Regions from separate parts of the Homo sapiens genome. Here regions 1, 3, 4 and 5 are each linked to region 2. The links come from fine-mapping of genetic effects on gene expression. A gene starts in region 2. Each other region holds a variant in brackets. All regions are shown on one strand. Distances are between the middles of the regions.

Evidence for each region. PIP is the estimated chance that this variant, and not a neighbour inherited with it, causes the effect.
Region 1: its variant is the best candidate, but not a certain one, in a credible set for the expression of LY75 in whole blood (INTERVAL, PIP 0.71).
Region 3: its variant is the best candidate, but not a certain one, in a credible set for the expression of LY75 in whole blood (INTERVAL, PIP 0.60).
Region 4: its variant is the best candidate, but not a certain one, in a credible set for the expression of LY75 in whole blood (INTERVAL, PIP 0.61).
Region 5: its variant is the best candidate, but not a certain one, in a credible set for the expression of LY75 in cerebellar hemisphere (GTEx, PIP 0.78).

What each region holds. Positions count from the first base shown.
Region 1 is chr2:159,774,943-159,781,492 of GRCh38, forward strand. LY75-CD302 (LY75-CD302 readthrough) reads right to left here. Exons shown (of 38, transcript NM_001198760.1): 35 at 5,940-6,056; 36 at 5,063-5,236; 37 at 2,996-3,022. It overlaps CD302 (CD302 molecule), which reads right to left. Exons shown (of 6, transcript NM_014880.5): 3 at 5,940-6,056; 4 at 5,063-5,236; 5 at 2,996-3,022. Among named protein-coding and RNA genes, the nearest start is that of CD302, 20 kb to the right of the region's middle. The variant G/A (reference allele first, on the strand shown) is at 3,437.
Region 2 is chr2:159,900,643-159,907,192 of GRCh38, forward strand. LY75 (lymphocyte antigen 75) reads right to left here and starts at 4,114. Exons shown (of 35, transcript NM_002349.4): 1 at 3,947-4,114. The coding sequence starts at 4,040. It overlaps LY75-CD302 (LY75-CD302 readthrough), which reads right to left and starts at 4,114. Exons shown (of 38, transcript NM_001198760.1): 1 at 3,947-4,114. The coding sequence starts at 4,040. RefSeq lists enhancers at 3,026-3,075, 3,126-3,175, 3,396-3,445, 3,586-3,665 and silencers at 3,846-4,305, 4,075-4,316.
Region 3 is chr2:159,572,801-159,579,350 of GRCh38, forward strand. The region is part of intron 1 of BAZ2B (bromodomain adjacent to zinc finger domain 2B); the gene reads right to left. Among named protein-coding and RNA genes, the nearest start is that of BAZ2B-AS1, 39 kb to the right of the region's middle. The variant A/G (reference allele first, on the strand shown) is at 3,005.
Region 4 is chr2:159,805,401-159,811,950 of GRCh38, forward strand. It overlaps LY75-CD302 (LY75-CD302 readthrough), which reads right to left. Exons shown (of 38, transcript NM_001198760.1): 32 at 5,126-5,275; 33 at 3,049-3,171. It overlaps LY75 (lymphocyte antigen 75), which reads right to left. Exons shown (of 35, transcript NM_002349.4): 32 at 5,126-5,275; 33 at 3,049-3,171; 34 at 1,573-1,740. Among named protein-coding and RNA genes, the nearest start is that of CD302, 10 kb to the left of the region's middle. The variant C/T (reference allele first, on the strand shown) is at 3,367.
Region 5 is chr2:159,851,067-159,856,863 of GRCh38, forward strand. It overlaps LY75-CD302 (LY75-CD302 readthrough), which reads right to left. Exons shown (of 38, transcript NM_001198760.1): 17 at 3,838-3,873; 18 at 3,294-3,469; 19 at 2,564-2,631; 20 at 2,207-2,286; 21 at 1,135-1,274. LY75 (lymphocyte antigen 75) reads right to left here. Exons shown (of 35, transcript NM_002349.4): 17 at 3,838-3,873; 18 at 3,294-3,469; 19 at 2,564-2,631; 20 at 2,207-2,286; 21 at 1,135-1,274. Among named protein-coding and RNA genes, the nearest start is that of LY75, 51 kb to the right of the region's middle. The variant A/G (reference allele first, on the strand shown) is at 2,639.

The DNA.
Region 1 (6,550 bases), 130 kb before region 2:
CCTAATCCCTATCTACATGACAGGCTTTCACTTTGACTTTAGGTCTTCATTATGCAAAATCATGGCCTTATTAAATGAGGCCTTCCCTGGCCACTGTACTAAAAATAAAAATAAAGTGCAACACCTCCCTTCTTGCACTGGAATTCATCCTTATCTGCCTGTTTTCCCTATAGGATGTGTCACCATCTCACATAGTTTTGTTTTACCCTTCCCACTAGAATGTATGCTTGAGAGCAGAGGCTTTTGTTTTGTTCATTGCTCTGTCTTCAATGTCTAACTTTAGGAGAAAGCCTGACACATAGTGTTTACTCACTAAATTACATACACATATTTAATACAGATTTACATGCACATATATACATGCATACATGTAATGAATTCAGAGATTACTTTTCTTGTAGTCTGAAGACCATATGTTGCCAGATCTTTCAACTATTCGTTTTTGAAGCCACAGACCTATTTTTTTCTAAATGTTCCAACTTATGTGTATCTTTATTTTTTCCAAAGTAATACATTTACGTAGCTTAAAAGTCATAGTTCTAGAAGATACGTAGTGAAAATACTGTGCTCCTGCTCCACTACTCACCTGAACATCCATTCCTTAAAGTTAACTACTACTGTTGCTTCAGCTATTTATCTGTCTCCATGTCTAAATAACATGCTTCCGCTGCTTGATTTTTTAAAAATGTAATTTAAAGAAATACATGTAACAAATACCATCTTAGGTGTGCAGTAGCATTAAGTACATTCACTTCGTTGTGCTACATCACCACCATCCATTCACAGAACAACTCATTTTGTAAAATGGAAACTGTACCTATTAAACTCCCATTTCTTCCTGACCTAACCCTTGGCAAAGAGTTTCTTGGTGAGGTTGACTACTTTAGGTACCTCATACTATAGGTAAGAATTATACAGAATTTGGCCTTTTATGACTGGCTTATTTTTCTTTTTTTTTTGTGGTGGTTTTGTTTTGTTTTGTTTTAGATGGAGGCTTGCTCTGTCTCGCCCAGGCTGGAGTGCAGTGGAGTGATCCCGGCTCACTGCAGCCTCTGCCTCCGGGTTTCAACTTTTTTTTTTTTTTTTTTAAAGTAGAGTCGGGATTTCGCCATGTTGGCCAGGCTGGTCTCAAACTCCTGACCTCAGGTGATCCACCGGTCTCAGCCTCCCAAAGTGCTGGGATTACAGGCGTGAGCCACTGCGCCCGGCCTGTGCCTGGCTTATTTTGTTTAGCCTAATGTCCTTCAGGTTTATGCATGTTGTAGCACGTGTCAGAATTTTCTTCTCTTTTAAGGCTAAATGATACTCAGTTGTATGTGCAGATTACATTTTGTTTATCCCTTCATCAGTGGACACTTGGGTTGCTTCCACCTTTTGGCTATGGCAAATGATGCTATGAACATAGATACACAAATATCAAACAGATGGGTGTACGGATATTAAAGAGTCCTTGCTTTCAGTTATTTGGGATACATACTCAGAATTGCTGGATCATACGGTAATTCTTTTAATAATTTTTTTTGAAGAACCACCACACTGTTTTTCACAGAGGCTGCACCATTTTACATTCCTACCACAAGAGTTCCAATTGCTGCATATCCACACTAATGCTTGTTATTTATTGTCTTCTTCCTATAGATTAATGAGGATGTAATTCCTGTATACACACAAACCCAACACTTCTTTTCTCCTCCTCTGTCATAGTTCTATCGTAGTAACCCCCAAATAGAAAACTGGCAAAGGACTCACATCCAATTTTTTTTTTTTTTTTTTTTTTTTTGTGAGATGGAGTCACTCTGTCGCCGAGGCTGGAGGGCAGTGGCGTGATCTCGGCTCACTGCAACCTCCGCCTCCCAAATTCATGCAATTCTCCCTGCCTCAACCTCCCAAGTAGCCGGGATTACAGGCGCCCGCCACCGTGCCCGGCTAAGTTTTGTATTATTTAGCCCGGCCCATATCCAAATTTAAAGAAACAAAATTTGTTTTAAAAATTCCTACCAAAAATATAGGCAACTCAAAAAAAATATGGGTGGCTGGGCATGGCGGCCCAACGCCTGTAATCTCAGCACTTTGGGAGGCTGAGGCGGGTGGATCCTTTGAACCCAGGAGTTTGAGACTAGCCTGGGTAACATGGTGAAACTCCATCTGTACAAAAAAAGTTAGCTGGGCATGGCGGCCCACACCTGTAGTCCCAGCTACTTGGGAGGCTGAGGTGGAAGTATCGCTTGAGCCCAGGAGGTCAAGACTGCGGTGAGTCAAGCTCACACCACTGCACTCCGCAAATGGGTAAAAGCCTTTTCACAAAAGATATACAAATAAATAATCATCTGAAAGGTGCTCAACATCATTATCAGGTAAATGAAAATTAAAGCCACAAGAAGATCACTACACACCTGATCTGAATGGCTAAAAATAAATTGACAATACCATCATGGGATGAACATGGAGCAAATGGAACTTGGACGCACTGCCAGTAGTAACATGATTCAAGCATTTTGAAAAATTATTTGGTGGTTTCTAATAAATCTAAATATATATACTTGCCCTATGACCCAGCTTTCTACTTTCTAGAATATACTCAAAGAAAATGAGAACATAGGTCCAAAAGAAGATGTGGGAGAATGTTCATAGGCAGTTCTATTCAAATTAGTTTAAAACTAGAAGTGATCCAAATATCCATAAACAAGAGAATGGACAATATATGATATATTTATAAAGTATTATGACACTTAGGGAAAAAATTCAGTGAATGTGCACAACACAGATGAATCTAAAAAAATATTCCCGAGTAAAAGAAGCCAGACAAAACTACATATTGTAGAATATATTTAAAATGTTGAGTCTTATTACTAAGAGACCTTTCTACATTCTTATAAAAATTGTTCTACTTTATATTACATAATTTTAAAAAGGGATCTGTAATGTATTTTAATATGCCAGAATTTTGATATATTTTTAATTGTGGGAAAAATTTAAAGACCAAATCATTACTTACCTGATAAATATTTCCTTTTGTATGGGACTAAAATACAAAAGAAAATAAAAATTAGAATTTAATTATGCTTTATTATAGGATTGACTTTAAACATGTTCACAATCATTAAAAATAAACCCTTTTATTAGTAGCTTAATATCAATATATTCATAGCCTAAAATCCATATTTCTTTGCCTCATTAGTTGTCTCTGTTGTCTATTTTGAACTTAGTTTTTAAAGAAAGATGTAGAGGGCTAACAACATGCATTAGCTTGGTTGGTGGAAAAGAATACGGGATCTTGAGGAAAAGACAATAATGAGGTAAAGGAAAAAAGAGGATTCTGGTTGGAGAGTCTAGAAAACAAATGTCATAAAATTAAACAACTGTGACCCTAACTACCTTAGTATGGATGTACTCACTATTTCTGATGTTTTGAAGTTATAGTTTAATTAAAAACTTT[G/A]TTTATGTAATGGCACCCTGAGGTGCAGAACCTGAAAAGAACCAATTTTTTAAAAAACAAATATTTGAAGTTGAATACTGCTACCATAAAACTATGACGAACATTTTGATAATCACTGTAAAACTAACAGTAGTCAAGGATCCTGCTGTAGCAAGTAAAGAAATGTACATACTTCCATATGTAAAGAAAGGAAATAAAGCAGGATGTGGAGTTTTGGTTTACAGTTGAAGTAGAAGGGGAAAATACTGAGGATGCAAAATGGGGAAATGGTTGTTTATATCATGTTTTAAGCACCCTAAATTCATATTTTGAAACATTAAAAAAACTAAAAACTTTTTTTGTAGAGATGGTGGTCTTGCTATGTTGACCCAGGCTGCCTCAGCCTCAAAAAGTGCTGGGATTACAAGCATGAGCCACTGTACCCAGCCCACATTTTGAAAATTTAATTTTCTTTAATGAGAAAACAGTTACTTTCTAAAACTTAGAATAACAAACTGTGTAGTGTTTTAACAAATAACATCAAAATACTGTTGTGGGCCAGGATAACTTCTGTTCATTAAAAAACCTTCTGGGCCGGGCACAGTGGCTCACGTCTGTAATCCTAACACTTTGGGAGGCTGAGGTGGGCAGATCACAAGGTCAGGAGTTCGAGACCAGCCTGGCCAATATGGTGAAACCCCATCTCTACTAAAAAATACAAAAATTAGCCGGGCATGGTGGCGGGTGCCTGTAGTCCCAGCTACTTGGGAGGCTGAGGCAGGAGAATCGCTTGAAGCCAGGAGGCAGAGGTTGCAGTGAGCCAAGATCGCGCCACCGCACTCCAGCCTGGGCGACAGAGAGAGACTGCATCGCAAAAAAAAAAAAAAAAAAAAAAAAAACCTTCTGACGGGTCAGAAGAAAACATTTTAATTCCAAATAAATTATAAACTATGATGTAGTTTTTGTTTGCCTAAACAAAGGATGTTCTTATGGAGAATCTAATTCCTTGTAAAGTAACACGAGAATTCTGGAATTATACATGATTACTCTTCACCACTTCTGCTCACTCAAATCACATGCAAAGAGATTATAATAATTCCTCTGAACAAGAAATTTTTGACCTCTTGGAAACACTAAGCAGACAGAATAAAAGTATGCCTATTTCATGTGATCTGGCCTTACCTCCTAAATGTAAGAGAATTACAATTTGAGTTCCAAGAGACTTAAGAGCAAACCATCCTATTAATATATTCTGAAGTCTTATTCCCTCTATTTTTTTTTTTCTTTTTGAGACAGAGTGTTGCTCTGTTGCCCAGGCTTACTGCAGCCTCAACCTCCCAGGCTCAATTGATCCTCCCACCTCAGGCTCCCATGTATTTCGGACCGCAGGTGCACGCCACCATGCCCAGCTGATTTTTGTATTTTTTGTAGAGATGAGTTTTCGCCATGTTGCTCAAGCTGGTCTTCAACTCCTGCGCTCAAGCAATCCAGTGCCTCAGTTTACCATAATGCTGGGATTGCAGGCGTGAGCCACTGTGCCTAGCCTTATTCTATTTATTGAGGCACACTTATCTCAAAATTATTTTAAAACCAGTCCTACTTTCTCTGCCCCTTCTAGAATGGAAAAACACCTTCGGTCATACTTACTAGCTGTTTTGCATAGTGTTCCTTCCACAGAAGAAACTTCACAATTTCCTTTTTTCCATTCACCTGTCTTGATGTGCAGAAAAGCACAGGTGTCAACTAAATCCTCATCATCATCTTGGTCTGTCCACTTATCAAATGTCATATTTGAATTATCAAACCACTTGAAACTCGCATCTGTCAATTAAGGAATATTTTCAACATTATGACAGTTTTAAAAGGAGTTCAAGCCAAAAAGGGTGTAGGATTAAAGGTGGAAAGTTACTAAGGTATGTCTGGTCTAAACTTCTGATTGTAGGATTAAAATTAGAAGGAGGAATATATCCTGTGTACAGCCAAATCATCAAAAGCTATCGATTTAAGAGGTTTCTGAAGATGATCCAATTTTCGCAAAAATATATACATGTATAATATTCTCATGGGAAAAAAGTCAAGAAAAATAGTTAAATATTAATAGTAACCTTAGTAATTTCATTTCATTTGAAAATGTTTACATATGTACTTTTATATTTGTACATATGTACTTTGTCTACAGTAATGATAAATATGTTTATATAATAGAACCGTGATAATTTAGTCTATCCTTAGCCTATTAGTTGCAGACACTAATACTTACCTTTATGATCATGCTATATTACAAAAATACTGAGCCTTAGAGCCACATTTTAATCCAGACAAGAATCAACTGTGGCTTTCATCTGTGTAACTCATTGAGCTATGCAGATACAAGCTGTGGTATGATCATAGGTGCACACTGAAAATTTAACACCTGGAGGCCACAGGAATCATCAACTTGAACCAGAGAATTGAAAAGCCATCAGTTTTGCTACATTAAAAAAAGAACAACAAAGTCACGTCCCACGAGGTAAATATCACTTACCATCTGTGTCATAAAACATGCCTAGTAGGATATCATCTGGGCCTTTCCATTGCTTTTTCAAAGTATCCAGTATAAAAGCATTTTCTTCTTCATTATGTATGCTTATCATGTCCGCTCCTGAAATTATTTTAAAGAGAAAAAAAGTCAGCATATTCCAGAATCAGTGAAAATCACTAGGTACATAAAAATAATAAATAGTTGCTTAACTTTCTATATATATTAGAGCTGGACAATAAACTTTGATCTTACAGTTCATACAAGCTAATAAGGTTACAGGGACATGTCTTGGCTCTCAGCCTCTAATATGATTTATGTCATTGAAATTATGTTTATGTCTCAGTATACTTTACATAATTTTTTTTAAGGGATGGAAAATAGTTGTAGGGGCTGGGCGTGGTGGCTCATGCCTGTAATCCCAGCACTTTGGGAGGCTGAGGCGGGTGGATCACCTGAGGTCAGGAGTTTGAGACCAGCCTGGCCAACATGACGAAATCCTGTCCCTACCAAAAAAAAATAAAATAAAATAAAATTAGTTGGGTCTGGTGGCACCCACCTGTAATCCCAGCTACTCAGGAGGCTGAGGCAGGAGAATTGCTTGAACCCAGGAGGTA
Region 2 (6,550 bases):
TAACTATAAAATTAAGTCTCACTGCAGCTTGAACTTTGGAAGGATTTTTTTGTTTTGTTTTAAATAACAGAAGCAACGACAAGAGAAACAACAACAGCAACAACAATCCTTTAAAGCTTAAAGTTATTTTAAATCTGAATTTTAAAAGTATTCCACAGGATTGCAGCTAAGGATGTTTGCCATAGCAGCTTTCATCCTTCACACTTTTTTTTTTGAGATGGAGTCTTGCTCTGTTGCCCAGGCTGGAGTGCAGTGGCACAATCTCAGCTAACTGCAACCTCCGCCTCCCAGGTTCAAGTGATTCTCATGCCCCAGCCTCCCAAGTAGCTGAGATTACAGGTGCCTGCCACCACACCCGGGTAATTTTTGTATTTTTAGTAGAGATGGGGTTTCACCATGTTGGCCAAGCTGGTCTCGAACTCCTGACCTCAGGTGATCCACCCACTTCGGCCTCCCAAAATGCTGGGATTATAGGCATGAGATACCGTGCCCAGCCACATCCCTCACACTTTCTTCTTTGACATTCCTCTGCCATTTTCTACTTGATGGACACAGGCTGGGAAGACAGTCAACAAAAAAGGAAAATGTGCTATAAGATTACTACTCACACTTTCTCTCATGGCCTTCTCCCACAATTCAATAGCTACTCAGATCTCTGATCTACATCTTTTCCAAAGTATTCTCTCTTGCCTCTCCAAAATAAATCTTGCATTCCAAAGTATCAAAAATTACAGAAGAAAAAAGAAGTCTGCTCCTGCAGGAGACGTGCCCATCACCCTTGTTGGAAACAGCCCCTCTCCTGCCCTGTAGTCTTGCTGCTGTCTTTCCCGGGCATTCTGCTTTGTGTGCTGGATCCCAAACAGGTGAACTGGGGAAGCAGCAGCTTTGCCTTCCTTTGCAGTTTGCAGTTCTGGATTTTTCAAAATTTTTGTAGAATCCAATGGATTAGCTACATTTCTTTATACAGTGGAAAAAGCAGGAGTTAGGAGTCCGAGATTGAAACACTAAAACACTACAGGAGAGGTGTGGAGTAGCTATGTTAAAGTGGAGCTGCCAAACTTCCTAACAAACTGCTACATCTCTGAATATAGATGTTTTTCTCAGACTAATCCCTTGTTTGAACCAAGTATGCAATTTCAATGTGACACTTATAGTGGTCACTTAGTACAGATCTTAATTATTGATATACTTAAAGGAAACTTATTAGCCTCCATATATAAGGTATGTATAAACATACATTAGATAGGGAGAGTCCTATCCTTTCATGATGCTTCCCCGTATCTTTCTTTAACCTTAGCAGGAGCTGTTGAAACTGCCTCAGTCTTACGACCCTTATTGGGATAGTAGGTTGAAGAGCTGGAAGGAGGACTGAGAAAGTGTGAACATAATCCCTTATTTAGAAAATTTGGTACAGAAGGGCATATAAGCTATTTTAGAAATATACTTTGAAAAGGTAATTACAGAGTAGATTTTATTGTATAAAACTTATTTTATAAAATAGATTCTTTATCAATAGCTTTCTACTGGGTTTTGTTCACTTTACAACTTTATACCAGTCCTCAATGGAGTTTTAATATTTACCTCCAAGTACAATATTGGGGCAAATCTAAAAGGCAGAAGTTGATGAAGAGAAGCCTCATTACCCCCTAGATGCATTTTGTATATGCTTCATGTTATATAAATTCTCCAGTGGTGTTTGAGAGAAAATGGCTAAGTAGCATTACCATAAATTGAAAATAAATTTTTAGTATTTTTACATCCATCAAAGGCAAATCATCTCTTTCAGTGTTTTCTTATTGTCTGATCACTAAATAATTCCTGCCTTTGGTCCCTAGACCAAAGAGCTTCACACATTCCAAAGAGAAGCTGGATATTGACATTTATAACCACAGACAAATGGATAGGGAAATAGCTTGGGAAAACAAGAAGGATGAAGATGGCAGCATTTATAATTTCAGGGGAACCGTCCATAGATCACATATTAAGCATTTTGTAGAGTCTCTACCATGTGTTCGGAATGTACAGGTAGGTGCAGCAAGAGAGAATCAGAAGTCTAGGTTTGTTAGTTCAAAAACAGGTCCTGAAGTGACAGTTGAGTCCATGGCAATGTCCAGGGAGTCAGAAAGTCTTCACGCACGATTGGGTGGTGTTGGCTGGTGAAAACCTCAGGAGTCCCTGATGGATTGGTTTACTTCAAGCTGTTAGCTCTCCAAGCAGGCAAAAATGTAAACTAAGCACCTGGCATCTCTCCAAGGACACAGAGGGGCTCCTTCAGTGTTTGGGTAATAGAGGCCACCTGCACAAGCCTAGCCGTGCACATGTGACGAGGTGCATGCCATCACCAGCATCATGAAGCGGACACTCTTGCCAAACAATTGACCCAAATGGCTGGGGGTTCAAAATTCCAGTGCTTCCCCAAACAAGGCCACAAGTCTGCTCTGAGGGTGAGAGAAAATCGATCAGAGTAGCTGCTAGGAGTAAGGAAGGATACAGGATAACAAAACCTGTGGGGACCTAGCACAGGGGGAACAGAGTTAAACCTGGTGCTTTTTGCTTTGGGTCAGTGATAAAGGGCAGTGATTGCAGAGATTGCAAGAATTAGGGAAATCCTGAAATTTGTGAAGGAGATAAAAACAGGACTGAAGCAGATGTCGATGGGAACCAAGAGGTTAGTGATTGAAAAGTTAGTGCATTTTCACTGTAGTTAGTTGCTGCAGTGAACTTTTCCACCTTGGATTGTGGGGCAGGCAGAATAAATTATCAAGGCAATAAAGGATCTTATTTTAAAGGATTCTTTTGGTAGTTCCTAGCACACAGGGTCAAAGGAGAATAGAGAAGTGTGACTCAGAGCAGGGTTCATTTCCAGGTCCTTGCTGTAGATAGGATGATGCCATTCACACTCTGAGAAATCTCTTCCCATCGCTCTCCGAAGGAAGTCTAAACCAGATGGTAACTTAGCTTAGCTGCAAAGAAAATAAGAGCCACCAACAATTTAATGTTTTTCAAACTGCCTGGACAATCTTTTCCTTCCTCATACAGGCACGATAACAGAAGTGGCCGGTGGAGGGTGGCCCATTGAGTGCCCATGATGCAGTCCAACCAAGAAACAAAGTTCTCTGCACACCCCTCGCCCAGGCAAAAAGAGAAAGTAAAAGCAACCGGTTGCTGCCAAGGGGTGTGGTGTGGTGGGGCTGGCACTACCCTGAACATCAATGAAGGCTGTCTGTTTCTGGTCCTGCTTCCGCAGTGAGAGGCAGCAGGTCCCCAAGCAGGCGACCTGCCCTTCACCGTGAGGCTGTCAGCCTTGGGGGAGCGGGGTCATTTGGAGCTGATAAACCAATGAGAAGAAAGGTTTGTTGCTCTAGGCGGTGGGTGAGGGCATCATAGCTGACTCTTGGTCTTGGTCACTTTCGGAGGAGATGGTTTATTTAACCTGACTTCCTTCCTGATGCGCACCGTAGGCGCAGTGAAATCCGGGAATCGTGGGGAATCCTTGGCGCTGTGGGTGGAGGCTCCTCTTGGCCCTGTGGCCAAGGTGACCAAGGGCCGAAGGAAAAGCGAGAACGGGAGGGACGGGACGCAAGAGGGCAGATGGGGAACCCCATACTCCAGCAACATTATATAAGAGAGGCGACGATGGAGCAGCGCACCCGGCCAAAAAAGCCTCCGTGCGCCTACTCTACGGTGCACCGCGTCCCCTCTGCACCAGAAGGGCCCTGTCCTCCCACATCCACCGCGCCCTCCTCCGGGCCCCCGAGGGCACTGGGGCGCTTCCTCTGCCAGACCTCCCCTGCGACTCACTCTTCCGGCTCCAGAGCCCCCCCGCCCCAACAGCAAAGCAGCCGTGACCTGCCCCAGGGGCGCAGCCCTGCCCCAGGCTGGAAGGCAGCAGAGCTGTGGCGTCGAGGCACCCAGCGGACTGCGGGGCTGGCGTGCCCGCGGTTACCTGCGCGGCCAGAGGGCTCCGCGAGATCGAAGAACCAGAAGAGCAGCATGAGGAGCCCCGCCGGGCGGCGAGGGGTCGCCCAGCCTGTCCTCATCCTGAGCTGGCGCAAGCCTTCCGGCCGGGTCCTCGGGCGCACGCGGCTCCCGCCCCGCCTGCTGAGCGCGGCCTGCCCCGCCCGCACCTCTGTCTAGGCCTCTGGGGGCGCCCCGGCCCCGCCCCCGCCGCCCTCGGCCAATCAGACGTGCGTCTCCTCGGCCCCGGGGCGGAGCGGGCCAGGTGTGGGAAATGAACAGGGCTGGGCGCTAGATACCTGCGTGGGGTAGGACCCGCGAGGAAGAGGTACGTGCGGATCGGTGGGAGAGCCAGGCACCAGACAGGCTCCTGCACTGGAGGGTTCGGTCCCCGCCTCTTCATCAGCCAAGCTGGGGAGATGCGGCCCTTACTGGGACTTGGCACCGCCCTGGTGGGTGGGTTCTATCAGTTTAGAACCTTGGCCTCTGCCTGGCGCACTGTGGTCAGGGACGACTTCTCCATTCCAGCCTGGACTGGAAAGGGACCCATGATCTCTTCTACCCCGGAGGAGGAAGTGAGCACCTGCCCTGTGGGTGGCTGCGGCCAAGCCTAAGAATTCAGTCGTCCTTGGCAACGTCTTGGGTATTTTGACAGTGCAAACAAAGGTGGAATAATGGTACACTGCAGTTCTACCCATAGTTGTTAAAGAATTAAAAGCAAGAATTACTAGAATGACCAAACGACACTTCCAAGGATGACTTATGCTTTATAAAAAGTTGACCTTTGCGAGTAAGCTCTTTGCTTAATAATTTAATGATAATAATAATTAGCTGGTAGAAATGTAGAAGTCTGCATGCAGAACCAGAAATTTCATGTCCCACTCACTCTCTTCCTGTGGACACTGCTATCATTATAAAGAGGCCAAATTCTTAATGACCTAAGTTGCTCAAATGTGAATGTTTTATACTTTTAAATCTCGTCTTTGCTGAGCACATAATGTGTACTTGAGGTGGCCTCCATCCTTGTTGCATGAGGATGCAAAGACCTAGGTTGCTCTTCCTGACTCCCACTGCCAAGGTTTCACAGTTGGCTCCCAAACCTGCTCTGTCCTCTCCCCAGGGTCTGGCCTTTCAGTTCCATAGATATAGTGAGCACCTGCCATCACAGGATCTGGGCACGCCATGGAACAGAAGGACAAAAAGACAACATCTCTGCCCTCCCCTGAATACTGGGGAGACTGAGGCACTGTGATGGATAATATTGTCAGCTCGATTGATATGAACGAATGCAAAGTATTGTTCCTGGGTGTGTCTGTGAGGGTGTTGCCAAGGAGATTAACAGTGGACTGGGAGAGGCGGACCAGCCCTCAGTCTGGGTGGGCACCATCTCATCAGCTGCCAGCATGGCTAGAATAAAAGCAGGCAGAAGTTGGAAGGACTTGACTGGCTGAGTCTCCTGGCCTTCACCTTTCTCCCGTGCTAGATGCTTCCTACCCTCGAACATCGGACTCCAGGTTCTTCAGCTTTTGGACTCTTAGACCTATAAAAGTGGTTTGTCAGGGGATCTCTGGCCTTCGGCCACAGACTGAAGGCTGCACTGTTGGCTTCCCTACTTCTGAGGTTTTGGAACTCGGACTGGCTTCTTTGTTCCTCAGCTTGCAGACAGCCTATTGTGGGACTTCACCTTGTGATCATATGAGTCAATACTCCTTAATAAACTCCCTTTCATATATACATGTATCCTATTAGTCCTGTCCCTCTAGAGAACCCTAATACAGGCACACTCAGTGACACAGGGCAGAATGAATGGGGAAACTCTGACAAATGTTGAGGGAAGGCAACATCTTAGCTGGGTCTTAAAGAATGGGTAGGAATTTGAGCAGGCACAGCTGGTGGGAGAAAACCAGTGACAGGGCAGAGGCCAGAAAATGCAAGCAGAGTCAGAAGACAGTCCAGAGTCCAGGGTAGCTGCCCTGCGGGGGGTGTGTCTGTGAGAGAGATCAAAGTGGTTGTGGTGGGGGCCCCAGTGGAAATGACAGCAGAAAGGTGAGTTGTGTCTGTTTTGTGAAGGGCCTTGAATTTATTCTAAGGCACAGATGGTGGGAAGTTCTGAGTAGGAGAACCTGCCACTGACCTGATCCCCTCTGCCTCTGTGGCTGCCTGCCTTTCTTTCTGATCCTGCCCAGCTTGGAGCTCCTTGAGGGCAGTGGTCTTGCCGTATTCATTATCACATCCTCAACACTGGGCACAGGGCCTGTCCCAAAGTCAGCTCTCAATAAATGTTAGTTTAATCGATGGATGGATTCCTAGGGCCACCACCTTAGCCTAGGGCCATATGAGCTCCTACTTGCATTATATTGCAATAATTTATCAATTGACCTCACTGCCAACAGTTATTATCCTCTCTGGCAAATGAATCCTTCTAAACACTGTTTGGAACATGCCACTTTTCTACTCAAATCCTTTCAGTGCTATTTGCATATAGCAGGAGCTCCTAAATGCTACTTAAGGGAAATTATGAAACCCTGAAATTTTATGCAGCTTTATAAATGCACTATGTTTTGAGGAGGAGGAGGAAGGGTACAAGGCTTTC
Region 3 (6,550 bases), 330 kb before region 2:
AAAACCAAAACAAAAACAAAAATCAGATTCTCCTTTATGAAACACAGAGATTAGCATGAATGTACCTGCCTCTCTCTTAATATTATTTATCCTAAGCAACATGAGAATGAGGATTGTGTTTAATTGGAATTTTCTTTTCCAGAGATTAACAGGGTGCTTAGAAGATGAGAAGTGCTCACTACCTGCTGGAAAATAAAAAGAAATATTATGAGGGCAAAATATCAAAAAGAGGACCAGAAAGTGGGAAACGAGATAGTTTTCTAGAAAACTGAAAAAGGACTAAAAAATTAGGGGTGGGGTATAACTGAATTGGGCCAAAGATTATAAGTGACCTTGAAGAAAGTAATTTCAGATAAAATAGCATGAAAAGTTAAATTTTGGATTATTTTGGCCAGGATTGCCAAAATAATCTTGAAAAGGAAGAATAAAGTTGGAAGGCTCACACTTTCTGATTTCAATTTACTACAAAGCTATAGTAATCAAAGCAGAGTAGCATGGCTTAATGCTAGACCTTTAGATCAACAGAATAGAATTGAGATTCAAGAAACAAACCCTTGCTTACATGTACAGTCAAATGATATTTGACAAGGGTGCCAAAACAATTCAATGGGGAAAGAATATCTTTTCAACAAAAGGTGCTGGAACAACTGAATATCCACATGTAAAAGAAGGAAACTGGACCCCTACCTCACACCATACACAAAAAGGAACTAAGAATGAATCAATGACCCAAACGTAAGAGGTAAAAACGTAAAATTCCTGGAAGAAAATAAAGGCGTAAATCTTCTTGACCTTGGATTAGGCAATGTTTACTTAGATATGGCATCAAAAGCACAAGCAATCAAAGGAAAAATAGATAACGTGGACTTTTGTCCTTCAAAGGACACTATCAAGAAAGTGAAAAGACAACCTACAGAATGGAAGAAAATATTTGTATATCATATATCTGAAGACAGTTGTATCCAAAATATATTTTTAAAAAACACTTATAACTACTCAATAATTAAAAACAACACAGCCAGGCACAGGTGGCTCACATCCATAATCCTAGCACTTTGGGAGGACAAGGTAGGTAGATCGCTTGAGCCCAAGAGTTCAAGACCAGCCTGGGCAACATGGCAAAATCCCTTACCTACAAAAAAATATAAAAATTGGCTGGGTGTGTTGGCATGTGCCCATAGTCCCAGCTACTTGGGTGGCTGAGGGGGAGGATCCCTAGAGCCTGGGAGGTTGAGCCTACAGTGAGCCATGATGTGCCACTGCACTCTACCCAGGATGACACAGTGAGACCCAGACCCTGACAGATGGAGAGACTGACAGACACACACACACACACACACATACACACACACACACACACACACACACACACAGCACAATTTTAAAATGGGCAAAGGGTTTGAATAGATATTTTATCAAAAGAAGATACACAAATGGCCAATAAGCATAAGAAAAGATGCTCAATATCATTAGTCATCAGAGAAATGCAAATCAAAACCACGAGATGGCACTTCACACTCACTAGAATGGCTAAAAAACAAACAAACAAACAAAACAAAACAAAAAAAACCTAATAAGTGTTTGTAAGGATGTGGGGAAACTGGAACCCTTACACAATGCCAGTGGGATTGCAAAACATTGCAGCCACTTTAGAAAACATTTTGGCAGTTTCTCAATAAGTTAAACAGAGTTATGTCACCCAGCAATTCCATTCCTAGTTATATGCACAAGAGAACTACAAACATATGTCCATAAAAAAACCTACACGTATGTAGGTTTTGTACATGAATGTTCACAGCAACATTATTCATAATTATTCAAGTGTTCATCAAATAATAAATGGATAAACAAAATATGACACACTCATACAATGAAATATTATTTGGTAAGAAAATGAAATGAAGGCTGGGCGCGGTGGCTCACGCCTGTAATCCCGGCACTTTGGGAGGCTGAGGCAGGTGGATGACGAGGTCAAAAATTCGAGATCAGCCTAACCCCATCTCTATTAAAAATACAAAAATTAGCTGGGCATGGTGGCATGCGCCTGTAATCCCAGCTACTCAAGAAGCTGAGGCAGGAGAATCGCTTGAATCCAGGAGGCGGAGGCTGCAGTGAGCCAAGATCCTACCACTGCATTCCAGCCTGGGTAACACAGCAAGACTCCATCTCAAAAAAAAAAGAAAAGAAAAGAAAGAAAAAAGAAAATAAAATGAAGTTGTAATACATGCTGCAACAAGGATGAACTTGGAAAGCATTATGTTACATGACAGAAGCCAGTCACAAAAAACCATATATTGTATAATTCCACTTACATGCAATGTCCAGCGTAGGCAAATCCATAGAGAGAGAAAGTAGGATAGTGGGTAATGGGAGTTGGGGGAACAGGAAATGGAGAATGACTCCACAGGGAGTCCTATGCTTCTATGCTCAGGACCCTTTTGGACCTTCCCTCATTCATACCAGGGTTACTCCAGCCTGGGCGACAGAGCAACACTCTGCCTCCCAAAGAAAAAAAACCATGCAGAAAGGGAGAGTAGATAGCCTGAAAGAGGTTAAAATATACTGGATAAAAAATAGAAGTGAAGTCAATTCAACAGGCATGTATCAAGGGCTTACCATCTTCTAGACACAGAGTTATAAAGAGTTATAATATTAGGGATATAAAGGTAAATGGAGGAATTCATTAAGTTGAGAAGGCTTAACAAACCTTTGCCTCCAAAGAAGTCAACACCCAAATGATCCAAATGAAATTACAACTGCTTTTAAGGTTGGACCACAGTATTTGCCACTACTTAATTATTGAACCTCTCTAAGATTCCTAACCTGTAAAGTGAGGAATGGAGACCCTAGATCACTCACTTCTAAAATTTGAAGAGTCAAAACAATGTTGGTAGACTAGAAATTGGAATAATAGGTCAAAATCCACAAAAAGCATGATTATATGTACTCCATTAACATGATTATAAAACTCTTGAAGTGATACTAGTATGTACTCAAGAATATC[A/G]TTTTCAAAAGAAAAAAATTTTAACATGATTGAATATGAAATCTCCAAAAATACATTCTTAGAAAATCTAAGAATCTATATGTTTTCCTTCATTCATTTTAGACTACATGAAGTTTGGAGGACAGAAAGCTCAATTCTACAAACAGCAGCCTAAAATGCTAGGACCAAAATTCACATACATTAGTAAAATATCTTTCCTTTAAGATTTAGAAACTTAAAGAATTTCTGAGAAACAAACAGCTTCACAACATTACTAAGAATATAAATTAGCTCCACAATGTTATTTAAAAGGTCAACTAAACCTAGCTGCTCTTACTAAGAATCAGTAAGGGAAATCTGAATTTGATTCCTAGATTTACTATACACTAGCTTTGTAATCTTGGGCAAGTTACTGAGTCACATCTCAGTTTCCTCAACTGTAAGTAGAACAAATATACCCACCTAAAAGAATTCTTGTGAGGATTACACAAATAAATATATGGAAAGCTCTAACAGCATAACATCGATGTGGTCAAAAGATGTTGACAGATAATTTACAGAAAAAAATAAAAGAGATCAGTCTGGTCAACAAAGTGAGACCCCGTCTTTACAAAAAATAAAAACGAACAAATAAATAAGAAAGAAATAAAGCTGACCAATACATGAAAATAAACTAAATCTTGCAGAGAAATGCAAATTTGAACAAATTTGAGTTATCATCATGCACCAATCAGATTATCAAAGGTTTAAAAAAAAAAAAAAAAGAACCCAGAATTGGTAGTTTTAGAGTGAGTGTAAATTGATACCACCACTCTGAAAGGCAGTTCAGTAACAAGTATAAAAGTTTTGGCCAGGCACGGTGGCTCACACCTGTAATCCCAGTACTTTGGGAGGCTGAGGCAGGTGGATCACGAGGTCGGGAGTTCGAGACCAGCCTGGCTAACATGGTGAAACCCCGTCTCTACTAAAAATACAAAAAATTAGCCGGGCATGGTGGCAAATGCCTGTAGTCCCAGCTACTTGGGAGGCTGAGGCAGGAGAATCGCTTGAACCCAGGAGGCAGAGGTTGCGGTGAGCCGAGATCACGCCACTGCACTCCAGCCTGGGCTACAGAGTGAGACTGTGTCTCAAAAAAAAAAAAAAAAAAAAAAGGAAAGTGTGGCCAGGCACGGTGGCTCACACCTGTATTCTCAGCCCTTTGGGAGAACAAGGTTGGAAGACTACTTGAGCCCAGGAGTTCAAGAGCAGCCTAGGCAACACAGTGAGACCCTCATTTTTCCAAAAAATTTTAAAAATTAGTTGGGTGCAGTGGTGTATGCCTCTAGTCCCAGCTACTCGGAAGGCTGAGGCAGGAGGATCACTTGAGCCCAGGGGGTCAAGGCTGCAGTGAGCCATGATGGCACCACTGCACTCCATCCTAGGTGACAGAGTGAGATCCTATCTCTAAAACAAATTTACTTAAAAAATAACATGTTCCAAAACATATTATTGATTAAAAAGGAAAATTACAAACCAGTAGAGTATGACCTTATTTTTATAAATGTGTGTGTATATTTACAGGGAAGAGCATTTACCACGTTAAAGAGGTTAGCTCCAAATAGTAGAATTTTAAGTGACTTAACTGTCTTTAAAAAATTATTTCTGCATTAGTTACACTTTCTGTAAGTATGCATTACCTTTATAATCAGAAAAAAACTATTTTGATTTCTTTAAATAAATTTGAAAAACAAAGAACTAAAAGAGGATACCAGTTCTTGGTCCAATGATTGTTTTCACTACACAAAATGATCTGCTTGATCCAAGCAAATGTTCAGTTAGGGAGGAAAAATACTTTAAATGTGCCCTAAGATTAGAGAAACCTGACAGCCTAGGGAAAGATGAAAAATAATAACAATTATGTGACAAGACTCAAGAATATCTCTATCTTAAAACGTATCTGCTTCAGTTTAGATTGACCAAAGTCCTTTTATACACCACAAGAAATAAAAGTAGGTACCTTAATGGGAAGGAGAAAGGCTAAAGAAATAGCTAAGAAACTTACTAAACACACTGAAACTTATAATACTGCTTTTCAAGCTATTCTTAAAGTAATTAAAAGAATTATTCAACATGAGAAAAGAACTAGTTCATTTATGTTAGAGGACTTAAGTAATTTAAAGAAAGCTACATCAAATTGTCTGAAACCTCACTTGTTTTCACTTGTCATTAATTACCTACCAAGATATCACCTGCTGACAAAAAGAAAAACCTAAAGACATAGAAACTTTAACTTTCCCTAGTATGAACACATGAAAACTGTTCTTTTCCCTTATAAAAACTCTAGTGCTTAGCTTTCTTATTTGAATTCAGGAAAGAGTACTAAATGAAGACAAAAATTCAAAGCAAAAGGAACAACACTGAACAACAGAGTCAAGAAACAGACTGTGGTTTCAATTTTCTACTAACTCTTAATTTTATAAGTAAAACAAGAAGATTGACAAGAGCTTCAAATACTTTTAATGGAGGATCAGTGATACAATACACTCTTTGAAAAATTCACAGTTCATAAAAAAAAGAAAAGTTCTATGGTAAAATAAGTTCAGAAAATTGTGCACACCCTTTGCCCTTTTTGGAGATCCATAATGCAGAACAGAAAATACTTCTGTATAACCCAATGTTTCCCAAAATGAGAGACAAACAAAATGTCCCTCAACAAAGGAATGATTTAAAAATGCTTACATTAGACAGATCAACGAGACAAAAAGTTAACAAGGATATCCAGGAATTGAACTCAGCTCTGCACCAAGCAGACCTAATAGACATCTACAGAACTCTCCACCCCAAATCAACAGAATATACATTCTTCTCAGCAACACATCGCACTTATTCCAAAATTGACCACACAGTTGGAAGTAAAGCACTCCTCAGCAAATGTAAAAGAACAGAAATTTTAACAACTGTCTCTAGGACCACAGTGCAATCAAACTAGGAATCAGGATTAAGAAACTCACTCAAAACCGCTTAACTACATGGAAACCGAACAACCTGCTCCTCAATGACTACTGGGTACATAACGAGATGAAGGCAGAAATAAAGATGTTCTTTGAAACCAATGAGAACAAAGACACAACATACCACCACCTCTGGGACACATTTAAAGCAGTGTGTAGAGGGAAATTTATAGCACTAAATGCCCATGAGAAAGCAGGAAAGATCTAAAATTGACACCCTAACGTCACAATTAAAAGAACTACATAAGCAACAGCAAACAAATTCAAAAGCTAGCAGAAGACAACAAATAACTAAGATCAGAGCAGAACTGAAGGAGACAGAGACACAAAAAAACCCTTCAAAAAATCAATGAATCCAGCAGCTGGTTTTTTGAAAACATCAACAAAACTGATAGATCGCTAGCAAGACTAATAAAGAAGAAAAGAGAGAAGAATCAAATAGACGCAATAAAAAAATGACAAACGGGGTATCACCACCGATCCCCCAGAAATACAAACTACCATCAGAGAATACTATAAACACCTCTACGCAAATAAACAAGAAAATCTAGAAGAAATGGATAAATTCCTGGACACA
Region 4 (6,550 bases), 95 kb before region 2:
CTTAAGTGATTTCTTTTCAAATGTAAGTGTTTTCCTATTCATTCAAATCCTCTTCATTGTGATAGGAATTTTCTTCCAAAGACATTAATGCGCTATGATTATTCTCACATTCCCCCTTCCTAACACCAATTTGGGAACATCACTACTTGTATATTATCCTACTTTGATAGCAAATTGCTAAAAGCTATAAATTTTTGTTTTTGACTTACCTGGGGCTAAATAAAGTGTTATTTGCTTCAAAATGATTTAAGTCTCTCAGATGAGTTCATTTAGTGCAGCTGCTGTTCCAAGACCCTTATCTGCATACTGCCCAGATGGATTCGCTCTGTTCCATGACTTTAAATACCATTGCTATGCACACTACACATCTCGTCCCTCTATGGATAACTCAAAATGGCCAACGTAGAACTTTTGATTTGCAACACCCTAACTCTGCTCCCACCCAACCCCCCAAATCTTCCAGTTGCTTTCCATTCCACTCAGAATAAAACCAGAACTCAAGCCTTGCTTCCAAAGCTCTGTATGTCTAGCACCTGCCTACCTTTCAGTTCTTCCCTGAGCGCTCAGCCAACTTGTTCTGCCTTAGGCTCTTTGCTCCAACTGGTACCTCTGTCTGTTATGCCCTTTCCCTTGAAGTTTGCTTGGCTTGATTTTTTAGATCTTAGCTTCGGTGTCTCCTGCTTCTAGGCTTCTTCCCTGGTTTCCTAATCTAGAGTAGCTATCCACTGAGTCTCCATCACATAGAGTTTATAACTATTTGATATTTTCCTCTCTTTAAAAAATTGACCTGTTTACTTATCTTTCTTCACCAGATTGTAATCTCTGTGAGAACAGGTACCTTATCTGTCTTGTTCTCAGGTGCATCCCAGTGTGCAAAACAGGGCATGGCATATAGTAGACACTCTATTTACTGTCTCAGTGTGTGTATACATGGATACTGATTACCTAGAATTGAGGTTTTATCTTTAATATTTATATACAAGAAGCAAAAGTTTTATGCAAGATCTTTAAAAATGTTACTGTGAAAAATTTGGAGCTCTTTCTCCAGAAATGAAGTTAATATAACATTTTAATGGTAATTTTATGTATCAATTCATAATGAAATGTAAGTTCAAATTATGATTTTTTATAGATACCCTGAATGTTTTCAATAACTAAATCCAGTTTTGCATTGTTTTAAAATTAACCATGAGTTTTATGGGATTAGGAAGAAAGGAAGCAAATTAACTGCAGAAATAGACCTTTAAGCTTTTATATAATCAAACTATAGAATAAAATACATCTCAAGAACATTTTAAAAGAAATTACTTCCCTAATACCCTGGCAACTTCTGTTTTTCTTAGGAAAGAATTATATAAAATGTAGACTGGAGTCCTGGACATCTTGTGCAGTTATCGTCCCTTGTAATCTATTTTTCAGGGGGAAATCTCTATGACTTAATCAAGATAGTTGGATATACTTTAAGGACTAAATACTTCAAGACTAAATACAGAATTTTGTACATAATTGGATTGTACATTTATTTCCTGACTGTTCTGCAAAAAGTCTCCTAAGGACAGGTTCCATACTTACCCAGAGGCACTTTGCAGACAACTCTTCCAAAACCATGTTCACATTCAACTTTTTTCCAAGTTTCATTTGAAGCTATCAACATGCTACATCTTCCAACACCACTCTTACTTTTATTTTCCCATTTGACAAATGTCACTTCTGATCCATCTAACCAACTCCAAGACTGGTCTGAAGAAAGAAATTAAATACAACTATGTCTACTGCCACTAAACTAGTAAGTTACAAGCATGGGTTCATGTAACTCATCAGAACTGTGCTGTCCAATATGAGAGCCACTTGTTAAAATAAAATGCATTAAAAATGAAAAAAATAAAATCAGTTCTTCAGTTGCACTAGTCACATTTCAAGTGCTCAAGAGCCACATGTGGCCAGTGACTACTATATTGGACAGTGCAGATATAGAACATTTCTGTCTTTGTAGAAAGTTCTATTGGACAACACAGATAGAGAATGTGGTGTTTCCGTTAAAGTGCAGAATGCTTGCACATTTATTTTGTGAGGGAGAGATTTCTAAGGACCCATATCCTTCCCCTACTCTAATTGTAAAAAGTCATATCATTAAAGATATGCTGGTGGAAGAGGAAGGGTGCAGGAATCTCCATCCCCACCTTTCTCCCACACCACCACCAGGACTCCATTTTTGCTTTCCAGCTGAAGTGGCACCACCTTGTGGTGACAGTGTAAACACGATTTAGGATTCATTTAGATGGACAACTTGGAATCCTTTTATTTTTTGACAAGTACTTAACATTTTAAAATTCACATTTTAATAATTTAAAATTCAACTTTGCATAAAATGTGAAAAACCTTATCTTCTGTCATATTTGTACTCTTATTTCTACCAATTCCAAGTTCACCTAAACCCTGTATCTACTATTTCGTATTAAAAAATCCTTCCACAAATTTTCTTTGAATCAATTATCTGCAATTTTATAGGTTGGCGCAAAAGTAATGGCAAAAGCTGCAATTACTTTCACACCAACCTAACACTAAGACAGTTTTTAAAGATTACTATTAAGACATAATTTTAACCAGTGGTAAAAATATTCTTAGAGAGAAGGGAATAACAAGAAGATAACTTTCTGAATAACGAAGTTATAAGCTGCAAATCCATGCGGTGACAGGCACTAGAACTCTAAGAGAAGGCAGGCATGGGTTCCTTGTGGGGACACAGACATTCCTGTGGAGAAGAAAATGTCCTGATGTTGATCCAAGGATCCCAGAAATAAGCCTCTAGAAAGATTCCACTTTATTTAACAGGATTTTCTGTGTCATTAGTGGTTTCCGTCATTGCTAAGTTAACTCATGGATTCATTCAAAATTTATAACCATCCAGAACAGCCAGCGACCTAGCTTATTTATCCAGAAGAGGCATCTGAATTAGCCACTACTTAACATTCTTTAGCAAGGACGACTTGTTATTTAGGATGAGTTAGAACTCTCTTTGCACACTACACATACAATTATTTCACTTACCAACAGAATGTTGAGATAATCCAAGCCAAACTCTCATGGTAATGTTATTATTTTCCCTCATCAGTCTGCTCACAAATTTATTCTCATCTTCATCTTTTATGGAAACGATAGTTGCAGAGTGATCTGTTGAAAGAAAACACATTCTCAATTAGCTTTATGGAAACTAGAGAAGTAGTTTATTCTCAACTAGCCATTTGAAAAATACATATATTATTAACAAGATCATTGATAAATTCAAGCCTTACACAGAGACAGTTTTTAAAAACTGGTATTTAGGTCAAAATTTTATAAGTACTTCAAAAAAATTACTTCCAAACA[C/T]GTATAAAGAAATTTTGTGTTTCTTCAAAATATTTATCTGGCAATATTTTTTTGGCCCTGGAACTGCCTACCCCTGAGACCTCTCTGACTGTTCAGATGAGAAAAGAGAAAGAGTTGTGTAACCTCCCAATGCCACTTAGCTAGGATATGTGGGAACTGGGATTTGAACCCAGACCCTCATGCCTCCAAGTCTTAAGTGCTTAACCTACATATTAGTTTTACAGTAAACCATTCTGTTTTCTCCTTTAGGAGAAAAAGGTTTATGACTTTCAAAACATACATATATCTTACAACAGTTTCCATCATGTGTATTCAGGTATAAAACCGAATGGTTCCCACACAAAAGTTCCCGGTAACTACAAGATTTTTCAATCAGTCAAGTGTCTCCACAACGGTTATCAGAATAAATTAGATAAATGCCATCCATCTACCTGGCTAATTTGCTACCCAAGGAAGCAGGTAAACAAGTTTTGGTCTTTGAAATACTCTAGGTAGTTCCCCTAGAAGTCATTTTACAGTTTGACTATGGATCAAATTTGTCACGGGAAAGAGCCAATCATTGCTACTCTTTCTAAAATAGCTAAATCTGAAGGCAAAAAGCACTGCCCTTTATGGTGGTCAGAGGATGTGGCCAATCCTATTGCAGAACGGATGGACAACCATACTACTTTGATTTGTTACCCTGGTGAGGCTAAGCTTATGTATTAATAACTAAGCAATGGAACAACTATAATTTTTATTTACTACTTAGCTAACTTTACAAAAATTTTACCTCTTAATTCCTTTTTCTAAGCATATCTAGCTATAGGTAAAACCGTTTCCAATCATTTGTCAGTATTTTTACTTAGCAGTTCACTTAGCCACTTTTATTTTATTATTTTACATTTATTATTATTTTTATTATTTATTTTATTTATTTATTTATTTTTGAGATGGAGTCTTGCTCTGTCGCCCAGGCTGGAGCGCAGTGGCACAGTCTTGGCTCACTGCAACCTCCACCTCCCTGGTTCATGTGATTCTCCTGCCTCAGCTTCCCAAGTAGCTGGGATTACAGGTGCACGCCACCACGCCCAGCTAAGTTTTGTATTTTTAGTAGAGACGAGGGCTCGCCATGTTGGTCACGCTAGTCTTTAATGGCTAACCTCAAGTGATCCTCCCACCTCGGCCTCCCAAAGTGCTGGGATTATAGGCGTGAGCCACCGCACCCAGCCACCACTTTAAAATTCTACTTCTTCCAACTTATTATTTTCCATGTACTTATTATTAACATTGATAATTTTTTTTTGAGATAGAGTCTTGCTCTGTCACCCAGGCTGGAGTGCAGTGGTGCCATCTCAGCTCACTGCAACCTCCGCCTCCTGGGTTCAAGCGATTCTCCTGCCTCAGCCTCCCGAGTAGCTGGGACTACAGGTGTGTGCGACCACACCCAGCTAATTTTTGTATTTTTAGTAGAGATAGGGTTTCACCATGTTGGCCAGGATGGTCTTGATCTCTTGACCTCATGATCTGCCCGCCTTGGCCTCCCAAAGTGCTGGGATTACAGGCGTTTTTAATGGCTATTCCAATATTTCATTGAGTTCCTATGTCATCAGATACTTAACCATTTCCCTACCACTGGGCAATTAGTTTATAGCGCTATTAGAAATGGAAAGTGCTTTAAAAATATTTTCAAAAATACAATCATTGCTTCAAATTATATCCTTAAGAAACATTTCTAAAAATTATTGAGTCATAAGAAAATCAACAAATTTTAACTCACCATGTTTTGAACACAATTTTTTGGCCTCTGAAAAACTGTGCAATGCCTGATCAGACTTGTAACAGTGACCCTTGTACTGGATCCACCGTGACCCATTCTCTTTTGCTGCTGGACATCTTGATGAATATGTAAGACGGGACAGCTTTTTAGCTATAAAAATGTTAGACACAGTTGTAACAATGCATGGAAAAAAAAGACTGCCTTTCAAAATCTACTTCAATGTCCCTGATTGGAACTGTTGCGTTTGTGGTTGAGTAGCATTTAACTCATACCAGAGAAAGCCACAGCCCACACTCTATAAATACATATTTTAATTAACTTTTTGGAATACCGTTTAAAAAACCTAGGTGATAGAAGTGGAAAGTGCCTTAGCTTTCTAAGACTGATTTGGACTAAAGTAGAAACAATGAGAAAGACAGACTAGAAAAAGAAGTAAAGACAGGCCAGGCAGACCTGAAAGTACTCTGAAATAATAATTAAAATTATTTCTTTCTTTGGATTCCTTTTTTTGTTTATTATTATTTTTTTTAGTAGAGACGAAGTTTCACCATGCTGGCCAGGCTGGTTTCAAACTCCTCACCTCAAGTGATTTGCCTGCCTCAGGCTCCCAAAGTGCTGGGATTACAGGCGTGACCCCACAGCGCCTAGCCCGTTGGATTCCTTTTTATTTTGATAATCTAAATAAATCTAGTTTTACTTAGTCATAAGAAGAACTATTTTTTAAAAATAGCTAATTTGTTTTACAAAGCATAATACATCAGCACCGCAACATCACTCAAACAAAAAAAGACTAGGAGTGGCTTCTTAGCTCTTAAAAATGCCCCTGGTTTCCATTTAAATTGATTTTTAATTGTGCTGAGTAACAGAAGCAGCCTGAGGAATGCAGCTTGTGCCCTTTAACACCTGTTTTTAATTCCAACCGAAGAGCATATGAAAACTGGAAAGTAAATTGTCAATGTCGTATTAGTGCGGTACAGCTTATCTGAATCAAATATCTGACCTGGTACCAGTCAGTAATCTCAACCCAAACTATTGTTTTGTAATGCATTCTGTATGATCTTTATGTCCTTCAGTAAGTAAAGGCTTTTTCTGTTTTTTTCTCCAAATCTCCACTTGGCAGAGTCCTTATTTGTGGTCTCTGTGATTAGAGAGGAATGGCGGCTACTGTGAGACTCTTTAGTGGCCCTTAGTTCCTTCTGCTGCTTCTCTATCTTCTGTTAGAAACCAGACTTGATCTTTTTGAACTTCGGTTATTTGATTGGCTTTTGCCTCCATTCTTCTCACTAACACACCAATTTGAGTACTAAGTCTTCAGTTCAGCAGTTGGACTCCTGGGTAAGTTTCCCAGCTGCTGCAGATCAAAATGCATTTGCCAAATTCATCTATACAATCTATAAAACTTCTCACAACTCCTCATCAATGCTG
Region 5 (5,797 bases), 50 kb before region 2:
TAATCATCATCTCCTTATGTCAAGAAACACTGTTGAAAAATTCATCTCTTTCTTGGCAGGATATTTTAATTCAAATTTATATCAGCTATGCAAATTAACACAGTACTATTACCTTGAGGAATTAAAAAGATTGTCCTAATTTTAAAAAGTTAAAATGTACCCCTAGCTTTACTACAGATGCTTTCAGCTGTCAGACACATCTCTTTTTTCCCTTTTTCACATTATGATCACTTTAGTGTAGAGTGGTATGTCCCAAATTGTGTTCCTTGAAATATCTTACAAAAAAAATTTTTTTTTCAGCTTTCTTATAGACTGGAGTGGCCAATGAGCCAAGCTACCCAATGTGGACAAACTCATCGGGTAACTTCTAGAAAAGACCCTAGAGAGAACACCCTGAATTTAAGCTCGGAAGCCTTATATTAAGGATGGCAGAGCAAAACCAAAAGAAGCCTGATTTTGAAGACTTCATGGTGTTTCCACACAAACCTGCTTATCTTCAAATGTCTTTAATGTGACAGAATAAATCTTTTCTCATACTGTAGCAACCTCTTTTCAGAAGCCAAATGCATTTCCTAATACATACATATACCAACATGGATTATGCATCTCAAAGAGGCAGATACAGAATGCAGCATTTCTCAAACCTATTTAATCATAAAACCCCCATTTGGAGGCAAGATCAATGATTAACATTTTGTAGCATGTGTGTAGTCCCCAAAAAGTAGTTTGTGAAATGCTGGTCTAATTTGATTGGCAGATGCTGCTTGGATGCTCTCCTTGAGGGGAAAAAGAAAACACAAGCCAGAAATTAAGTCAGTTTCCTATAAGGCCATAGAGACAGTCCTGACTATTCAATGCATCCCAATCCCTCAACAGATCAACTTAAGCAATTTAAGTGTTAGTAGCAACAAAATAGAAATGCTGCACTTTAAAAGACCTGTAGGCATGACCAACTTGAGAGTTAATTCTTGATATCATCCACGGTTTCTGGCAACACAGAGGGCCAGGTGGGATCCTGAAACATGCAGAGTCTATTTCAGTGATGTTGTCACTAATGGGTTGCCATTCTGCCATAGGCTATAAAACCAGCATGGAAGCAATCATTGTTGCATAATGTAGCAATTCTCTTTTTACCTTATTCTGAAAAGGAATCCATTGCTCAGAACATTGCACTTTAGCTGCAGAATCTGGGCTGTATTTCTCTAACGAAGAAACATTATATTTTTCACAGATGAAGGGCAACTTGGTACTACAGTCTGTTGGTTTACCTAAGTCTGAGAAATGAAAAGCCAGGATTACTATGGTGAGAATTTTTCAGTCAGTACATTTTTATTTTGTTTTGTGTGTTTTTTTTTGTTTTTTTTTTTTTGAGACAGAGTCTCGCTCTGTTGCCCGGGGCTGGAGTGCAGTGGTGCAATGTTGGCTTACTGCATCCTCCACCTCCCAGATTCAAGTGATTCTCATACTTCAGCCTCCCAAGAAGCTGGGATTGCAGGTGCATGCTGCCACACCTGGCTAATTTTTGTATTTTTAGTAGAGACAGGGATTCACCACGTTGGCCAGGCTGGTCTCGAACTCCTTGCCTCAAGTGATTTGCCTGCCTCAGCCTCCCAAAGTGCTGGGATTACAGGCATGAGCCACCGTGCCCGGCCAAGTCAGCACATTTTAAAAGCAACCCAGTAGTAAAGAAAGGCTCTTGAAATCAATCTTTCCTAAATGCTTAAAATATATTCCCTTTCTTCTCTAGCCATTTCTGTCTTCTATGATTATTTTTATCAGTAGGTTACAGCATACCAATACTGTCTATGAAACAGCACACATTTTGTGTGACTACCATACCATCCCAGGGTGAAGGCAGGAGGTAGGAAGAGAGTTGAAGGGGCAATGTAATCAGGGGGAGGGGACTTAAACTATATTTTAGAACTGCTGCCTGCTTATCTTTGAAAATTTGCTTAGACACTTATCAGTTAGGAAAGTGGTAAGTTTATTACTAAGTAACTGCTTTAGGATAAAGGAAGTTAAAATATTCACAGTGAAAAGTACCTTTATTTGCATTGGGAATTTGAGCTATTGTTGCTAATAATAAATCAGAATAAGATGAAATTACCAAACATATAATTAAAAGGAAAACAAGATTAAGCTAGAAACTGAACCTGAACTTCACATATTACATAATCAGCATTAAAGGATTTAGAATTAACTTTACCGATAAGCCAAGTCTTGGCAGACATGTACAAGCATTCCTCTCCAAATGTCACAGGAAAGCGGTGCCATGGATATCGTGAGCTAAAAGAAAATGACAGATTTGACAACTCGTAATGTAATTAGGTGTTCCATTTTTTTCTTTTTACTGTAAGTTATTTTATTTCTAAATTTAATGTTAATACCATTACTCTATACCCCTTTTTTCTTGATGCTAACATGCAAAAGGGCTTGGTTTCTCTAATTTAGGCAGTTTATGGATTAATATTCAAACTACTTATAAATAGAAATCCATTTAGTAAAAGGAACTGCTTCTTTTAAGTGATAACTTTACAAAGGTAGAATCAATGATGTCACCTACTATGTAAAATGATCATCTATTGGCCACTCGCTAATTCTTATCCACCACTTCTGTCCATCACCAGATATCTGAAAA[A/G]CAAGCCAAACATCCATCCTTATATGTGCTGAGCTTTCTTGAGGGTTTTGATTCGAATACATTGTCTTACTATAATCACTAACCACTAAAATTTCCAGACATTCCTTACTTAGATTTCAAAATTATACAAACTAGAACCTTTTGCCAAAGAGTAGTTGAAATTTCTCAGTATATTTACAGATCCTATTGTGGGTACAGGAAATATGGTAGCTGTAATTATGGGCATATATTAATTAGACTAATACTTTAAGTGGGCATACAGTATCCTATTGCAATTGATTATAAATTTAAAAATACAGAAATTATTTTTCTTCCCAAAAATTATTTTGCAAAGTTACTTATTAGTAGAAACAGAAACTCAAGTTAACTATAAAGTTGACTTTTAGTAAAAAATGTGACAGGAAATTAGAATGATCTATATTATCTACTGATGTTTACCTTATAAAGTGACATTTATTATTAATCTTGTATATTTTAAAACATAAGCAATTCTACTTAATTTTTCTAACATGAAACAAATTTGGATGCTGTGAGGCAGATTTTACATTAAAGAAAAATTTAACTTTTGTAGATTTTGGCAAAATTTTTGTAATATTTTTAAATGGAATAAATACAAAAATAAGAAATATATTTAAAATATATTCTTTTAAATTACATTTGCTATTTTGTTTTTGATGGCTTTTAGTCCCACAAAAGATGTTATAGTTGCAAGAAAGCTGTGATTGCTGGCACAGTACAGGACGGCTTCTTCATAGTTTAGGTGAAGATCAGCAACAAACCAATATTCACTTCCTTCAATTATAAGTGGAGGTCCATGAATTCCAGCACGGTCTAAAGAAGAAGAAGAAAAAGATTAGAATTATGACTATGCAAAGCAAACTGTGTCCTCTAAGCATGAGTTAATGTTCAAAACTATAAATAGTAATTCAGATTACCGGCCCTCTCTGGCTGGGGCAGTACTGACTACAAGGAACAAGAGATTCCTGAGCCAGTGACTCTGCCACTCCCCTACACTCACAGGGAAGGAAAAAGTCACCCTCATCACCTCATCCCATACCAGTCGCTCACCTTCCTTGCCTGGAGAAATTTTGTCTCACTTGAAGATGTATAGAGAAGAAGCTGGCACTTAAATAATTAACTAAATGCATTAGTGACAAGGTAAAAGCAGCTTTGGTTAAATTTCAGTTTTCTTAACTCACCTGGATTGTACCAGTCTGGTGTTTTTGGAGTACGGCCTGTATGAGGAAGAAAGCAAGTGGCATTAGTATTCCATGACAGATCAGGGTATACTATAAGTACGGCCTTTAATGTAGCTCGAAAGGACTTGCAGTATTGTTGAGTCTTGTCCATTTCTGGCCAACCCACTTCACGTTTTGATCACTTTAGTTGTATTTTGTAGGGCCGATGCTAAACCTGCTTCAGGAGAAATCCAAAAGGCAGATACGTTAAATATTAATGAAGTATTTCTAGCAGTCTTTTACCTTGTGTCACAGAGGTCACAAAAGAAGTAAGACAGATAAAATATAGCTAAGAATTAGAAAGTAAAAACAAGTAAATAATGATATTGTATGTGTTACACAGAAGCATAAGAAGTAGGAACCAAAATAACGGTCATTGAAAAGGGAAGTTATTCAGGAACCACTTCTGCATCTAATGAAACAGGTTAACTGTTCTGTAAACTTAGGTTGATAGAGTTCATTGTCTTCCAAGATATCCTTGGAAACAATGTACAATGCTCCAGTGTTGAACCTTTTGAGAAGATGAGACAAAACTGAGAGGAAAATAATTAAAAGTGACTCAGGATTCCCAGATGGAAACGGAGTAAATAATGGCATGCTACACAGAATTCCGGGTTGGAAGCTGGGCGGGTCAGTGTGCAAATGCCCTTATGCATTTTGCTGCCATGGTATTTCGGATGAGTGGCTTAACCCTCTCTGAGCCTTGATTTTCTCCTCTATGAAAACTAGATGGCTACCTGACTCACAGAGAGTGAAGGTCACGTGTGATGCCCTGGAGGAAGTGGCCAGCACAGGACCAGGCACAGGGAAGTTCCCCATGGGAGCCTATTTGCGTTCCTCCCCCTTTTCATTCTGGCCACAGATCACACTGGCTTCAAGTCAAAGACATCATTTGCTTAATCTTAGAAATTACAGAGTAAAATAGCTGGTCTTAATTTTGGTGTGGCATGTGAGCCTCAGGCAGGCATCAGAAGACCTGACTCAGAGGACTGCCTGAATAGCCAGCATCTTTAGTCTCTCTCTGAGCCAGTTCTATTCGTATTGGATAATTTCCAACAATAATGTTGCAAGTCAGTTCAAAATGTACATAGTTTCTTGTCTGTAATCTTGTCAAAGACTTCTGATTATTTGTGTGTGGGGGAGGGAAAGCTATGGCTAACCTTTAAATATCTTTAAATTAGTGAGAAAAGTAGGATGCAAGGTGTTTTTTATACAAGATTGCAAACATGTATGTGTGTACAAGGTATCAAGAAATACAATAAAAATTGCTATGTCTGGGTAATGGCATCATAGGTAATTTTCCTAAAAACACTTTTATGAGCCTTATTTTTGACACAGTTTTCTCAAAAAATAATATTTAAAAAGTACAAATATCCACTGTGGTTGAGGTAACTTCAAATTTACAGGTTGTCAAAATATCTCTTTTAGGGAAGAGAGGATTAATTAGAACCAAGTAATAAAAAGGCAAGAGCCAGAGAAGAGGCATGGTGATTTAGAATACATAAGAGGAAAACTTCTTTAAGAAAACCAGAAAATACAGATGAATACAAGTTGAGTAAACTTAGGCTGCTCTAATAACCAAGAAAATATCCAACCAGCTGAATGCATCACATCGTAACTTAGAAAGTTAGGTACAGTACGGTCAAAAAAGGGTGAACATAACATTTAAACCCTGGAGCAAGCAATCATTGATTTCTTCAAGTGATTGGGACAGGCTGAGAACAGGAGTTTAGTTTTTTATTTTATTTCTGCATGGGGATAATGGAGGTGGAATTATTTAGATTTGTTCGATTAATTGATTTATATTTTTAAGTGGGTTAATTCCTTTCTCTCTTGTTAAAAAATATATATTAAAAAAAATATATATACACCTCCACATGCCCTTCATACTATTTCCTCTGGTGGCTAATTTGCCATTTCT